Linked DNA regions of Homo sapiens: region 1 is linked to region 2. The links come from fine-mapping of genetic effects on gene expression. A gene starts in region 2. The other region holds a variant in brackets. All regions are shown on one strand. Distances are between the middles of the regions.

Region 1 (8,000 bases), 120 kb before region 2:
CTTGAGATGTATTCCTTAAGATCTTTTTCAGTCTGTAGGTTCTCTTTTCATCTTGCTTTTTTTGTGTTGAAGGAAACTGAATCACTTTTTCTAAAAGTTTGCTACAGTCAGGATTTTGCAGTTTAATTCACTACTATTTTAATTAGGATTTGGGTATGTATGGATAAAACATAAATAATCAGCTAGGTGTGGTGGTACATTCCTATAGTCCCAGATACTTGGGAGGCTGAGGCAGGAAGATCTTTTGGGCTCAGGAGTTTGAGGCTGCAGTGAGCAATGTTCATGCCACTTCACTCCAACCTGGGCTGTTCAGAGCAAGACCCTGTCTCTAAAAACAAGGATCAACAAAAATTAAATATGCTTTCATTTCTGGTTCTTTTTTCTCTTTTCTCTGTCAGTTTTTGGTATCAGTGTTATGCTGATCTCATACGAGAACTTGGAATTCAGCAACATTCATTCAGCAGGAGTTACTGAGCACTACTGTGGCCGGGCACTATGCTTGGTGTAATGGTGAATGAGACAGAAGTGGTATTTGTCCTCGTAGTGCATAAAGGCAAGTGGGGAAGACAGACAATAAACAAATCCTGAATAAATTGATAAGCTACAAATATATATTTGTTTCCATTTTATGTGTTGGAATAGATTAAATAAAATAGGAATAATCTGTTTCTTAAATATTTAATAGAACTTTAAAGACATCTGTTCTGACATTTATTTTAGCATACACATATTTCATAAGCATGTGAAATTACTTAAGAACCCCTTTTCTCTCCCCATAAATCTTTGACACCGTGTGAAGTTGTTCCATCCTTATATTGTTTTTCCTTTAGGCCTACAGTGTTCCCCTGGGGATTTGAGTTTTCAAGTTTTGTGAACAAGGCTGTATTATTTCTGTGGGAAAAATCATTCAGGTTTCACATGATGGAAACAGAATGATACAATCCACTGAGTTTGAAGACTCCAGGAAGAACAAAAAATTATATTTGCAATTACTTATTTCAGGTCAAATTAATAGCTTCTAGTATGATAACTTTTTTTTGTTTTAAAATTAACCAGTTAAGAGACTGGGCGTGGTGGTTCATGCCTGCAATCCCAGAGCTTTAGGAGGCCACAGTGGGTGGATCAGTTGAGGTCAGGAGTTTGAGACCAGCCTAGGCAACGTGGTGAAATCCTGTCTCTACTAAAAATACAAAAATTAGCTGGGTGTGATGGCCCACGCCTGTAATCCCAGCTACTCGGGAGGCTAAGGCACAAGAATCTTGCTGCTGCACTCCAGAGTGCAGACGACAGAGCAAGACTCTGTCTCAAGACAACAACAACAAAAAACTGACCAGTTAGTATTGTATTAGTTACTTGTAGAGGAAAATAGTATCAAATAGTAAGGATTTTCTTATAAAAAACAAAAAAAGGGTGTGGATTGTATATACTTGCTGAGTCAAGTATACTTGTCTTTCTGAGTCAAGTAAGTATACACAGTCCACACCCATTTTTTTTTTTGAAGAAAACACCCGTTTGTTTTTATGTGCCCTCAGAATTAAGATGAAGTCTTGTGCTATCTTTTTAATATGTATAAGACTAGAAAAACCAGTGAAATTCATAGTTAGAAAATAATCTATCTCTAGTCCTTTAATTCTGGAAAGAATTCCAGAGATCATTTACTCCAGTAGTAGTCTTGTTTTATGGAAGAAGCCCTAAAAGTTCTTTTTTTTTAAATTTCAGAGGTTTTTACCCATTCTACAAGTCTTTTAATTGCCTCAGGTGCTCTTGTCTTTCTTGCCTTCTGGTATGAATTGTGATATGATTTTTGGAGTTGGGAAGGAAATTATATTTTTGGTTCAATAACTTGTTGACATTATTTTTTTGCCAACCAGTCTTTATTCAGTTGCAAGAATTAAATTGATAGGTTCGTGGTCAGATTTCCTCTTGAGGACACTGCACTGAACTCTCTGAAGAAAATACTTTAAATAAATTGTAATGAATTGGTTAAGATGCTGACTTGAAATTTCTGATTGGCTAATGCTTTAATTTTTATTTTTTTTGAGACAAGTTCTCACTCTGTTACCCAGAGTGAGAGTGCAGGCTGGAGTGCAGTGGCGCCATCACTGTTCACTGCAGCTTCGACCTCCCCAGGCTCAGGTGGTCCCCTGCCTCAACCTCCTGAGTAGCTGGGACTACAGGTGTGTGCCACCACACCTGGCCAGTTTTTGTATTTTTTGTAGAGACAGGTTGTCACTATGTTGCTCAGGCTAGTCTTGAACTCCTGGGCTCAAGTGATCTTCCAGTCTCCCAAAGTGCTGGGATTACAGGCCTGAGCAGTCACACCCAGCCCTGGCTAATGCTTTGAAGTCATGACTCCCATTCTGATTTTTAACTAGTCATTACTTTCCTGTTCTTCCATTATGGTAGTCTCACAAGACTTATAATTTCAGACTTTTTATTGGTAACTACAAGAGATTATTGTTTTAGCTTTTTCATTTTAAAGATATTGTTTTGTCTAGTTGTATTCTGAAATTACATGTTAGGTATAATTATTAGTTGTACAATTAGCTATTAAATTTTCAGAAAGTTTGAAGGGAGAGAGTAAGTGAAAAGCCACTCCTGCTAAAGATTAGACACTGTACTAGATGCTTGGAGGATTAAGAGGAGACCAGAGCTAAGGGAAATCTTTGTCTGGATTTTATTGACCCATTTTGGAATTAGCTGCAGATCTTAAGAAATCAGATTGGGTTGGCAGGACGTGGTGGCTCATGTCTGTAATCTCAGCACTTTGGGAGGCTGAGGCGGGAGGATCACGAGGTCAAGAGATTGAGACCAGCCTGGCCAACATGGTGAAACCCCGTCTCTACTAAAAATACAAAAATTAGCCAGGTGTGGTGGCGGGCACCTGTAGTCCCAGCTACTCAGGAGGCTGAGACAGGAGAATGGCATGAACCCCGGAGGTGGAGGTTTCAGTGAGCCAAGATCGTGCCACTGCACTCCAGCCTGGTGACAGAGCGAGACTCCGTCTCAAAAAACAAACAAACAAAAAACAGTTTGGGTCAATAATTTGCGTTTACAGTACTAGTTTATGTACTTATTTGTCACTTTGTAATTTTTAGGGAGTTGCTTTTCAACTGTAATCTGTTTTTATTAAACTATTTGAAATGAGCTTTGTATTCAGTCACTAGTTGTGTTTCTCCCTTCCAAGTACTAACCAGGCTCAACCCTGCTTCTGAGATCAGACAAGATCAGGAGCGTTCAGGGTGGTTTGGTTGTAGACACTAATTGCTTTGCTTATAAGCCTTAAGGATACCTTACAATTAATAACTTTGGTAAAACCTCATTTGAAAAATAAGACTAAGCCTGAGCCAAACGGCAAAATCCCATCTCTACAAAAAATTAGCCGAGCATGGTGTTGGGTGCCTGTGGTCCCAGCTACTCAGGAGGCTGAGGTGGGAGGATCACTTGAGCTCGGGAGGTTGAGGCTGCAGTGAGTCAAGATTGTGCCACTGCATTCCAGCATGGGTGACAGAGTGAGACCCTGTCTCAAAAAAAAGAAAAGAAAAAAGTAAGACTAAAATCAGTTAGTGACAAAACTTATGTATTACAGCATCTTGACTTAAAAAAAAAACAAACCAAAACCCTTCATTTTCCGAGTTTTTCATAAGCCAGGTATTTTCTTAAATTTGAAGTCTTAGAAACTTAGGTTATTTTGGCTCGCTAGCTGTATGTGTAGAGTGAAAATAGTATTTCTACATTTGGTCAGTTGCATAATGTTACTATACCTTTGATCCATCTGGAATTTATCTTGGTATGCAGTGTGAAGCAAGCATCGGATTCTGCTTTTTTCTAGGTGACTACCCAGTTGTCCCATGACTTGATTTTAAAAAGCAGCTTTATTATATACCAAATGTTTATATTTTGGGTATTTTTAGGGATTTCTACTTTGTTCCACTAATCTGTATTTGTACCAGTACGACACAGCTTTCAGTATTGTATCTTCTAATATTTTAATATCTGATAGGCTAGTCTCCATTTTCTTCGGAGATTTTTTCTTTTTTTTCTGCGTTTGCTTAATTGTTATTT[C/CT]TTTTTTTTTTTTTTTTTTTTGAGATGGAATTTTGCTCTTGTCGCCCAGGCTGGAGTGCAATGGTGTGAGCTCAGCTCACTGCAACCTCTGCCTCCCAGGTTTAAGTGATTCTCCTGCCTCAGCCTCTGGAGTGGGTTAGGATTACGGGCTCCCGCCACAGCTAATTTTTGTATTTTTAGTAGAGATGGGGTTTCACCATGTTGGCCAGGCTGGTCTCAAACTCCTGACCTTAGGTGATCTACCCACCTCAGCCTCCCAAAGTGCTGGGATTACAGGTGTGGGTCACCACGCCTGGCCGCTTAATTGTTATTTCTACATGAACTTTAGAATCAGCTTGTCTAATTAAAAAAAAAAAAAAAGAAAGAAAAACATGGTACTTCAGTTTTCATTTGCATCATGGCAAATTTGTATAGCAACTTAGAATTGATCTTAATAATGTTGAATATCCCGCTCAAGAGTATTGTATGTTTTTCTAATTGTCTAAGTTTTCTTTTGTGTCTTTCAGTACAGGTTTAGTTTTCTCCCTTTATGTCTTCAGTTTATTCCTAGTTCTTAACTGCTGTGGTATATTGGTATGTTGTGTGTTTCTCTTATATTTCTTTTTATTTATTTCTTTTTTTTTTTTAAAGAGATGGGATCTTGCAATGTTGCCCAGGCTGGACTCGAACTCCTGGGCTTAAGCAGTTCTCTTGTTTCAGCACATTATATTTATTATCTGGCCATGTATATATGAAGGCTGTTTCAGAGTATTAATTTGTTTCAGAATATTAATTTTGTATCCAGAAATAGTTTATCGTATTCTCTTGTCAGTTTTTGGGTTTTCCTGGGAAAGTTTCTTATCTGAGTTTTTATGCTTTTTATTTCTCCCATCTAATATGAAATAACAATGCTAAGCAATTGTGATAATAATGGATATCTTTGTCTTGTTGCTGTCCTTCGTGGGAATACTTCTGTAGTCTCCCCACTAGTCAGCATAATCTGGTATTTGGTATTAGTTTTTTGTTTTTTAAAACTCATGTAAAGGAGATAGCCATATGATTTTTCTTCTTTGAGCATTAATGCTGAATTATATCAGCAGAATTGTTAATGTTGGTGTTGGACTGTATTTATGCAAAAAATCTCACTTGGACATGGTTTATTCCTAAAATGTACTGGTAATTTTGGTTGTTACTTTTTTTTTTAATCAAGGATTTTCATATCTGTATTTATATATTCAATTTTTCCGAAGTTTTTTGGCACCAATATTATACTCATTTTGTAAATACAAATTAGACACTTTTCTATATTTTGGATCCATTAAAATCCCACTGGAGGCCGGGCACAGTGGCTTATGCCTGTAATCCCAGCACTTTGGGAGGCCGAGGCAGGCAGATCACCTGAGGTCAGGAGTTCGAGACCATCCTAGCCACCATGGTGAAACCCTGTCTCTACTAAAAATAAAAAAATTAGCCGGGCGCGGTGGCTCACGCCTGTAATCCCAGCACTTTGGGAGGCCGAGGCGGGCAGATCATGAGGTCAGGAGATTGAGACCATCCTGGTTAACACAGTGAAATCCCGTCTCTACTAAAAATACAAAAAAATTAGCCGGACGTGGTGGCGGGCGCCTGTAGTCCCAGCTACTTGGGAGGCTGAGGCAGGTCAATGGCGTGAACCTGGGAGGCGGAGTTTGCAGTGAGCCGAGATGGCACCACTGCACTCCAGCCTGGGCGACAGAGTGAGACTCTGTCTCAAAAAAAAAAAAAAAAATTAGCTGGGTGTGGTGGTGGGTACCTGTAATCCCAGCTACTCGGGAGGCTGAGGCGGGAGAATTGCTTGAGCCTGGATGGTGGAGGCTCAAGCCTGGATGGAGTGAGCCGAGATCAAGCTGGTTATTAACTCAGCTTCGTATTTTAGTTCTATTTTTTGAGGTGGAGTCTCACTCTGTTGCTCAGGCTGGAGTGCAGTGGCGTGATCTCGGCTCACCGCAACCTCCGCTTCCTGGGTTCAAGCCATTCTCCTGCCTCAGCCTCCCGTGTAGCTGGGATTACAGGCATATGCCATGAGACCTGGCTAATATTTTTTGTATTTTTAGTAGAGATGGAGTTTCACCATGTTGGCCAGGCTGGTCTCAAACTCCTGACCTCAAGTGATCTGCCTGCCTTGGCCGCCTCCCAAAGTGCTGGGATTACAGGCGTGAGCCACCACGCCTGGCCTGACTCAGCTACTTCTGATTTTGGAAATTTATCATGGTTTTCTTTGTGTCCTAATATTTACACAAGTTTTGTAACATGTTCTTTGGGTATTTTAAAAAGTGTGTCCTGCTTTCAAGATGCTTTTGATCTAACAATATAAATTAAATCTAGATTAGAGCTAAATTAGATTTGTTATCTATTTCTGCCTAGTTTTTGTTTCCTATCATTTTTGCCTTTTGAGTGGTAATGCTATGTTATTTGGGGCAATTCAGTATTGATATTCAGTGGTTTGCACTCTTTATTGTTAATAAAGTAAAACACAATGGTTTGCACTCTTTATTGTTAATAAAGTAAAACACCTGTTACGTACTCCATGAAGTCTATAACCTAGAGTCATTTGTATGCTTACTGGTCTAGAAACCACTGATTTATTCTTTGTTCTTTTTTCTCTCTCTGAAGTCGTTATCTTTCATTAGTTACCTATTTTTTTTTTTGTTTGTGTTTTTTCCAGCGCTCTGTTGAATTACATATTATTGTATTTCCTTTTAATCCTCTTATAGGTGCTTGTTGCATACCAGTTTTTTTCCCCCAATTACAAAGTATGTGTGTGTTGATCATAGATAAATGTATGCATCTATGCTCAGTACAGGAAACCTGGAAAACAGCACAAAAGGAAAAACCAAAAGGCTAAATTTGTGATCCCACCATTATAAAAATATCTTATCCTTATTTGTTTCCATATCCACATAAACATACTTCTCTCTTTTCCACAATGTCAGGGCCTATTAAATCTTGTTTCTATACGCTAGTGACTCCAATTTTCTTTTTTAATTTGCGATAAAACGGGTGCTTAGGAAAATCTGAACCAGTATTTTATTCCAGCTGAATTAAAAGAAATTGATGCATAAAGAAAAGCTTACTGGAGCTATTGAAATGTTCCTCAGTATGAATCAGGGTACTGTGACCTCTTGTTGGCCTTCCATTTTCAGCCAAGTACGCCGATGTGCAGCGGACAGTAATAAGGGGGCTAAGTTTTGCAAACACAGAGCTTGTGGACAGTGATAGATCCTGAAAGTAGTGTCTCTTGCTAATTCTCAGACTTAACCTGACTGAAAGCAAGGCCTCACAAATTGAATTCAGTCTTCACAGTTACGTTCTTAACTAACACAAAAAAATATTCTAATACTATTCTGTTCAAATAAAAATTTACGTTTTCTGGCCAGGTGCGGTGGCTCACACCTGTAATCTCAGCACTTTGGGAGGCCAAGATGGGTGGATCACCTGAGGTCAGGAGTTTGAGACCAGCCTGGCCAACATGGCAAAAACCCATCTCTACTAAATACAAAAAAATTAGCTGGGCATGGTGGTGTGTGCCTGTAGTACCAGCTACCTGGGAGGCTGAGGCAGGAGGATTGCTTGAACCTGGGAGGCAGAGGGTTGCAGTGAGCCGAGATTGTGTCACCACACTCCAGCCTGAGTGACAGAGGGAGACTCCATCTTTAAAAAAAAAAAAAATTTTTTTTTTTTACATGTTTTCTATAGGTATACTAGTTTACTGGTAGAGTGGTTGGAAATGTTTTGCCTTTTTGAAAGTTATATTTAATTCACCAACCTTTTTTTTTCTTTAAACACATCGTTGCTGGTTTGAATAATTTGTCAACCTTTGTGGAGCTCTTTCTGCATGTCAGGCAGTATATAAAAGTATCTTTTGTTAATTTTTATAATAAGAATCATTTGAGATTACTTTATATGTGGTATAGGGG
Region 2 (8,528 bases):
AAAAAAGCAATATGTCTTATTAGTCTTTTTATACCCAGGTTCTAAAACAGTGCCTGGGGCCAGGCACGGTGGCTCATGCCTGTAATCCCAGAACTTTGGGAGGCTGAGGTGGGTGGATCACTTGAGGCCAAAAGTTCGAGACCAGCCTGGTCAACATGGTGAAACCCCATCTCCACAAAAAATACAGAAATTAGCTGGGAATGTTGGCACACACTTTGTAATCCCAGCTACTCAGGAGGCTGACATGAGAATCGCTGGAACCTGGGAGGAAGAGGTTGCAGTGAGCCAAGATTGCGCCACTGCACTCCAGCCTGGGCAACAGAGTAAGACTATCTCAGAAAAAAATATAAATAAATAAATAAAAGAGTGATTGGAAATAATATTCAATAATTGTTTAATGAATAAATATCCCTACAGTATATTAAAACTCTATAAAAGCATTTGATATCGTTTGTGGTAACGGGTGGTAGAAACTATTTATCAGGGTAATTTGATTACTCAGGAAAATTGTGACAGAGATGCTGGTGCCCTGAGTCACTGCTCCTGGACACCAAAATTATGCAAGTTTGTATTACTCAAATGAATTGATATGGACACAGATATGGTTACAGTTCCAAGAGGAAACTTTATCCAATCTTCAAGAAATATTTTTTGAGAGACTTGTATGAGATAGGCCCTGTTTTATGCACCAGGAATATAAGTGAACAAAACAGACAAGGTCAGCCAGGCACAGTGGCTCATGCCTGTTATCCCAACACTTTAGGAGGCTGAGGGAGGATTGCTTGAGCCCAGGAGTTTGAGATGAGCCTGGACAACATAGTGAGGCCTTGTCTCTACAAATAAACAAAATTAGCTGGGCATGGTGGTACATGCCTGTGGTCCCAGCTACTTGGGGGGCTGAGGTGGGAGGATTGCTTGGGCCTGGGAGTCAGAGGCTACAGTGAGCCATGATCACACCACTGCAGTTCAGTGTGGGCAACAGGGCGACAGAGTAAGAGCCTGTCTCAAGAAAACCCCCCAAAAAACAGATAAGGTCCCTGCCCTCATGACACTATTATTTTAATGGGAAGAGATAATTAATAATCAATAAGCGGTAGTTTTAGATGATGATAATCACTACCGAAGAATAAAGCCCAGTGCAGGGCTTACTTTACATTGGATGATCAGAGAAGGCTTCATTCAGAAGGGAATATTTGAGGTGAAACCTGAAATAACATGGAGTCACTTATGTAAAAATCAGGAGGAAGAGGGTTCCACGTGAGCACATTAGCCCAAAGGTGGAAATGAGCATGGCAAAATCAAGCCATCAAACACGGACAGGTTGGCTGGCATAGTAGGTGAGAAGGAGAATAGTATGAGAAGAGGAGAGAAAGGTAGGGGCCAGATTATGTAGGGTGTACTGGGCCACATAAAAGTGTCTGAATTTTACTTTTAAGTGAAGTAGGAAGTCATTAGAGGATCTTAAGTGGAGAAAGTATATGCTATGATTCGTCTTCAAAGTTCACTCTCCCAGTTCTGTGAGGAAATGGATCACAGCAGGTGGGCAAAAGTGGAAACAGGGAGATCATTTAGGAAGCTACTGCACTGAACTGACAAAAAAAAATGCTGACTTGGAAAAAATGTTTCCTTTCATGAGGGTTAATTAGAATAATGTAAATTAACTGCTACATTCAGTGTCTGATATATAAACACTCAACAATATATTATACTATTATTATTAGTTTATACCTACAGAAAACTCTTCTTATTCAACACGATATGAACATCAAAACCCTTGAGACAGTAACTTGGGAGGTATACAATGACCATACACTCAAGGTTTAAGAAGTAGAACTCTATTATTTATTTAACAAAATGTGTTGAGGATCTACACTGTGCAAATTATAAACTGGTTTGCTGAGCCAGCATAGGGAAACTGGATTAATATATCAGGCATCATAGAATACTAGATCTGGAAGGGATCTAGAAGAGTTCAGCCCCTCACTTTACGACAAAAGAGCAGCCCAGAGAAAGAAACTGTGGTTCTCCCTAAACTAAAAACTGAGAGGCTCATACCTTAGGTTGCCCCAAGGACACACTCTGAATAACTAAAGATTTTCATTAACAATATAAAACCACAAATTTTAAATAAAATGCTATCTTAGCAGTAATGTGCTACACTAAGAAAAATGTAATATGCATATAAAGCCCTGGATACAGTGCTTTGTACGGGGTGAACACTCAATAAATGGTAACTACTACTTTCAGCAGCTAAAAAAAAAGTCTGTATGGTCTTTGGAAGGCTGAGAGTGTGTGGTCTACCTGACATCAACTACTTGACTTGAGAGTAGAGCCACAGGAATTTTAATCTAATTCAATTCTTTGATTTTCCAGATGGAAAAAATGAGGTCTAAAGGGGCTAGATTCAGGCGTTCAAGGCTGCGGTGAGCTATTATCATGCTAGTGCACTACAGCCTGGGTGACAGAGCAAGACATTTTCTCTAATAAAAAAAAAATAATAATAATAATAAAGGGACTAAATGACTTGCAAAGCCACCCACAGTGAATTAGAGACAGAGACAGAGCCAAAGCCAAACCCACATGTAGTGGGTTTCCACTACATGTCACAGCTATAAGGTAGTGTTTCAAACTTTTATAAAAGGGTAACAAGAACATAGCTGCTGTACTGAACTTTTTCACTCCTTTTATTAAGGCCACCAGTGAGCTATGAATTTGATATAAGGAGCAATCACACCAACAATCAGGCTGTGAATATATAATCCATGAGTTAACAACGAAACAGTCTTAGGAACGCAATTCTATCATAGACACCTGATGAATAGATGGAGTTCACCTGAGCAGCTGTTATATGCACTTCAATAGAGAGACTACAAAGCCTCTCTACTTGTAGAATACAAGTACAAAGAAGATGCTTTAAAACATTTTCCAAAGCACACTTAAAATGTGACAATAGCTGCCGGTCACTAAGAAGCTAAAGGGAGATAAATTATCTTGGCATACAGCAACAGAATGGTTTATTTTAAGCAAAGACTAAAAGGAGTCTAATAAAATTATTGGGAGACCAAGGCTAAAAGCCACAGATGCAGGAAGAGTTGCAGCAACCAATCCAAAAAAGTTTAGCCTTTCACAAAGAGTAGAAAGGCCAGCTGTGGACTGTGTGTGGACTTTTAGGTCCTTTTGCATTGAAGATTAGGGTGGCCTCCCCCTAGCCTCGAAATAAAAAATCGTCTCTGAAGCAGAGAGACAACAAGGCAGGGCATGAAGAGGAATCCAATCTATTTCTTGTAAATTAAATTCAACTCAACAAATATTTCCTGAAAATCTACTATGTGCAAGACATTGTGAACGATGCTTGCCTTACCTCAAAGGCTTCAAAATTTTATGGGAAAAGGGAAGCGAACGGGCTTCCCGGAAGTAAACAACCCAAGGGCGAATAGAAATGCCCTAAAAGAGGTGCCGGTCAGGCTTATCGGTTCAAAAGCAAGAAGGCTTTGGGACTCAAGAGTTTAGTCTCCCAAAGTGAGAGAAGTGGCGTTCAAGATAATTGCTGAAGAAAAGGCAGAGATATGGGGATGAAAGATAGGAAAGTAGGTGAACTTTAGGAAGAGCCAAGAGGGGCCAACTCTCGGTTCCCTCACAACTGCCAGTTTCCTCCCGCGCTCAGCCGACGTCACGCGCACCCGTGTCCGCGGGCAGGCGCCACGGTTCCGGACCAGACCTACCCCTCCTCTATTCTCCCCGCCCTTTCTCACCTCGGTCCAAACTCCTCGGTCTGCCCTGTCTGAGAAGAGGAGAAGACAATGCCGTCGGGAGTGAGCCCCAAAGCCCGCAACCTAACAGTCCCGTCAACCCGGGAGCCACCGGCGGCGGCCAGGCCGCATCTCCATGGCAACGCCGCCAAGCGCCAGTTCGAACGCCCGCGCTGTGGCCCGCGCGTCGCCAGTCCCGCACCGCCCACCAATGGGCATCCAAGGAATCGGTTGACGTTCGTTGACTTCTCCTCTGGAAGACCAATCAGAGGTCTGAAGAAACCGTGGGCGTAACTCTCAATTTCCGACCTTCAGCCAATCGTTCCGCTTGAGGGAAGATCTCGCGACGTTTCAGTGTGAGACGCGCACCTTTGAGGCGGGTCGAAGATCCTTCTGCCGAATTCTATTGATGGGCCCAAGCGTAACCAGGCTCTTCTGATTGGCCGGTGTACTTCAGTTTCCGTCCAAGGTCCGCCTCCTACCTCCTTCTGCTTCGGGTGAGTACCCTTAAGGGCCCACTTGATTTTAGTTCTCAGTGGAGGAAATGAGCCTTGGAGCGATGGGAATCTGCCTCTGGCAAACCTCTGGTCGCTGCAGGGCCCGAGAGGGATGCGCCCTCCTCTAAGTTGGCAGTGAGGTGTGGGCAGGCCAGGTCCCATCCGCTCTCAGGACCTCAGTTTTCCTGTCTGCACCGGGAGAAGGGAGGTTCCCTGACTCTGAGCCTTGCTTGTCCCCGTCGGAGTGGGGATAGGGTGGGTCGTCCAAATCCCAGAGGCGGGAGAGGTCCAGGTTTAGGGCCCAGAGGCCCAGGCGCCGAACCTTCCCCTCCCTGGGCCTCAGTTTCACTTGTTGCTACCCATTAAACCCCGCCTGCTTTCCAAAAGAGATTTTATGTTTTCTAATTGCTTCAGTTATTGAATGGATAATATCGTGGCAGTTATAGCAGAAGTAAAGAAAGTCGAACAAGAGCCCCACCGCCTTAAACAAACAAACAAAAAAGGGACAGCGTAAACAATGCAGGCCGGGTGCGGTGGCTCACGCCTGTAATCCCAGCATTTTGGGAGGCCAAGGCGGGCGGATCACGAGGTCAGGAGATCGAGACCATCCTGGCTAACACGGTGAAACCCCGTCTCTACTAAACAAAATACAAAAGTTAGCCAGGCGTCGTGGCGGGCACGTATAGTCCCTGCTACTCGGGAGGCTGAGGCAGGAGAATGGCATGAACCCAGGAGGCGGAGCTTGCAGTGAGCGGAGGTCGCGCCACTGCACTCCAGCCTGGGCGACAGAGCGAGACTCCGTCTCAAAAACAAAACAAAACAAAAAAAAACTGAATGCAATCAAATTGTCAAATGTAAAACGCTATTATAGAGTTAAGGTTAAGATCATTGATGTTAGGAGTCAGGCAGACCTACATTTGAGTCACTTACCCAGACATCTCTGAGCTATAGTTCCCTTTCTACTCTTCTGAAAAATGGCAGTAATGCCTCAGCGGGTTGTTGTGAAGATTAAGTGAAATAATGAAGGTAAAGCACTTGACACAACGCCTGGCGAGTAGTAACTTCTTAAAAAATGGTAGCGGCCGGGCGCGGTGGCTCACGCCTGTAATCCTAGCCCTTTGGGAGGCCGAGGCGGGCGGATCACGAGGTCAGGAGATCGAGACCATCCTGGCTGACACGGTGAAACCCCGTCTCTACTAAAAACACAAAAAATTAGCCGGGCGTGGTGGCGGGCGCCTGTGGTCCCAGCTACTCGGGAGGCTGAGGCAGGAGAATGGCACGAACCCGGGAGGCGGAGTTTGCAGAGAGCAGAGATCGCACCACTGCACTCCAGCCTGGGCGACAGAGGGAGACTCCGTCTCAAAAAAAAAAAGGTAGCTATTATTCTTATAATAAGAACAGGCAAATACACTAGTCAGTGCGTTGGTGTACTTTTTGTAACTGAGTACCCAATTTTGCCCAAAATTAGTCAGTTAAGGGAAAAAAGGTAATTCTTACTAATAAGGAAACAAATCCATTCTTCAAAAGATAAATTATTTTTCTAGTTTCTATATTAAAAGGAATTTATGCTGTGGGACCTTATAAGGAATATATATACTGTGGTGAACAGTGTTGAGCAGTTTAACAGACAAGATGAAAAGTCATTTCTTTAAAACAGAGAAGCTTTTTGATGATCTTTTATGACACACGGGTAACAGTAACTCATATATTTAGTACCTCTGATAATGTCAGACCCTCTATATATGTCATTTATAAACTCCACAACAACCATGCAAAGTAGGTGTTAACTTCATTTTACAAATGAGGAAGTTAAGTATCTTGCTCTAAGTATCTTGCTCTATTAACTTCAATAGCTAGGCCTTTCTGACTGCATAGACAGCCATGCTTTTCTGTGTTTCTGACTAAAGGAGGATGAAAATGCTTGGAATACCAGACAGATGCAGGGGCAGGTTGGACAGCTTGACTTACCTAAATTGGAGGGAATGTGAGCTGCAGAGGTACCTATGGTAGGAGCAATATCTTGCTCTAATAGAAAATTTTCACCGTGGTCTTGGTAGAGAAGGGAGGAGAAAAAAATTGTTTTAATAAAAATAATTTTAAAAAAGTAAATTCCCACCTTGGGAAATGAAGAGATAGGATGAGATGATCACTGAACTTTAGACCCATCTGTTCATTTATCTTATGGATAGACTATAGCACTTCAAATTCAACTTGTCCCAAACAAATGCTTCACTTGCACCCCCTCCTCCACCCAGGCACTCAAACCAAAGCCTTTCTCTTTCCCTTGGCTTATGAAACATCTCTCTGTCCCTTAGACAATGAAATATCACTATTGTCCATTTTACTTTGAAATATCTCTCAGATTCATCCCTTCCTTTCCTTTCTCACAGCCTCTGCCTTGATCTAACTGGAATCATTTGTTAACTGGTCTGTTGCAATAGACTTGTAACTGGTTAATCTCTCTGCCTCCAATCTGTCCTAATTCGTTCCCCAGCTTGCTTGCAGCTAGAATATCTTTGTAAAATGTCAGTCTGACCAAATTATACCCTTGCCTAAAACCAGTCAGAGGCTTCATTGCCTACAGAATATAAACTAAGCTGTTTACCAATGAGATGTCATTTTGTGCTTGAGGGTGTTGCCCACACTCCTCCCTTTGCTGGCAGTGCCTTGCATCCGCCTCCCTTCTGCCTGGTAAACTAGTGACCCATCAGAATCCTTATGGGGTACCTTGTTAACCTAAAGATGCTTCTTTGCTGCCTTTCCATCTTACGTTGCACAAAACACACTGTAACTTGTCTGTTGGAATGTCTTCCACTTTCACTAGCCTGTAAATCTCTAGGAAGTTGGTGCTTGGTAGTATTCAGCTTCATATCTATCTGTCAATCCTTCACACTGTCTGTCGCATGGGATACGCACAACAGACAAATTCCCCGAGTTAGCTTTCTAGAATTGTACAGCAGATGGCACTAATAGGCTGCTTAACAAATCCCCTTCACTAAGAATGATTTTTGTCCCAACCTTGTCTGACTTTGGCCTTATCCTAGAAGCCAATATTTATGCCATTACAGGTAAAATCTCCTGTTTCCTCCCTCAGCCAATAGCAAAAATAACAAAATGACTCAGCAGCTTCGTCTCTGCAAGAATGGAGTGGCAGATGTCCAGGGAAAGGTGCATTTGAGGGAATATTTTCTTTGTCTCAATTTATTCATGGTAGTTGGGGCTTTTCTTTTGCATTTCTTTCTTTTTTCTTCTCTTCCATTTGTTATTGTTCTTACAAGAAAGAGCTTTACTCATGGGTGGGTGCCTCATTTCTGTCCACTCCAAAAGGGAAGAAAGAAACTGGCAAATTGGAAAAAAGATGATGATGATGTGGGAGGTGAGGGAGTAGTCACATAGAATTGCAGTCACATAGAATTGCTTGTGGGCAGGCAAACAGTTGGCTTTCCTCCTCATCTGGAGGAGGGTCTGGGCAAATTTTCTGGACACTAGTGCCCTAAGTTAAGTGGAACATGTGGTTTTAGGTTCCTACTTCCCAGAAAAGAGCAGAGGAGGCATAGAAACCCTTTTGAGATGGGTGCTATTAGGAGCCTGAGGCTACATTTTACCCCTCCTTCAGAGTCTTCTTCGGATACCAGGATTTAACATCTACGGCCCTCTCCCCCCAACTAAAACCTTTTTGGTGGAAATGATCCCAGCTAGACATCTTAACCTCCAAAGGAATATAGATTAAAGACTGGGAATTTGGGGCCAGGCACAGTAGATTGCACCTGTAATCCCAGCACTTTGGGAGGCCAAAGTGGGAAGGTCACTTAAGGCCAGGAGTTCAAGACTAGCTTGGTCAGCATAGCAAGACCCCATCTCTACAAAAAAAGTGTTTTTTAAATTTAGCCAGATGTGATGGCTCCTGCTTGTAGTCCTAGCTACCCAGGAGGCTAAGACAGGAAAATTCCTTGAGCCCAGAAGGGATGCAGTGAGCTCTTGAGGCTGCAGTGAGCTGTGATCATACCATTGCCCTCCAGTCTGGATGACACAGAGAGACATTGTCAAAAAAAAAAAAAAAAAAAAAAAAAAAAGGACTGGGAATTTTGAAACTGGAAATGATTTTATAAATCTTGTCTGTCCTCTCTCAGGGCCATTTGTGTCCTAAGCCCTACTCTTTCATGGTGAACAGAGCTATGAAAGGGACAAAAATTATAGACTTTGGAGTTAGACTTACTTGGATTGAAATCCCATCCTTTACAGGCCAGCTATGCCCTTATGCAAGTATTTTAACCTTTTGAAA

The links.
Region 1: its variant is fine-mapped to the expression of NUDT2 in monocytes (Fairfax 2014, PIP 0.95).

Annotation. Positions count from the first base shown.
Region 1 is chr9:34,202,983-34,210,982 of GRCh38, forward strand. All of the region lies in intron 1 of UBAP1 (ubiquitin associated protein 1), which reads left to right. It also overlaps the pseudogene RNA5SP282. Among named protein-coding and RNA genes, the nearest start is that of UBAP1, 28 kb to the left of the region's middle. The variant C/CT (reference allele first, on the strand shown) is at 4,066.
Region 2 is chr9:34,325,354-34,333,881 of GRCh38, forward strand. NUDT2 (nudix hydrolase 2) reads left to right here and starts at 4,216. Exons shown (of 5, transcript NM_001161.5): 1 at 4,216-4,246. KIF24 (kinesin family member 24) reads right to left here and starts at 3,915. Exons shown (of 13, transcript NM_194313.4): 1 at 3,753-3,915. RefSeq lists enhancers at 3,582-3,641, 3,742-3,841, 3,929-4,436, 3,972-4,161.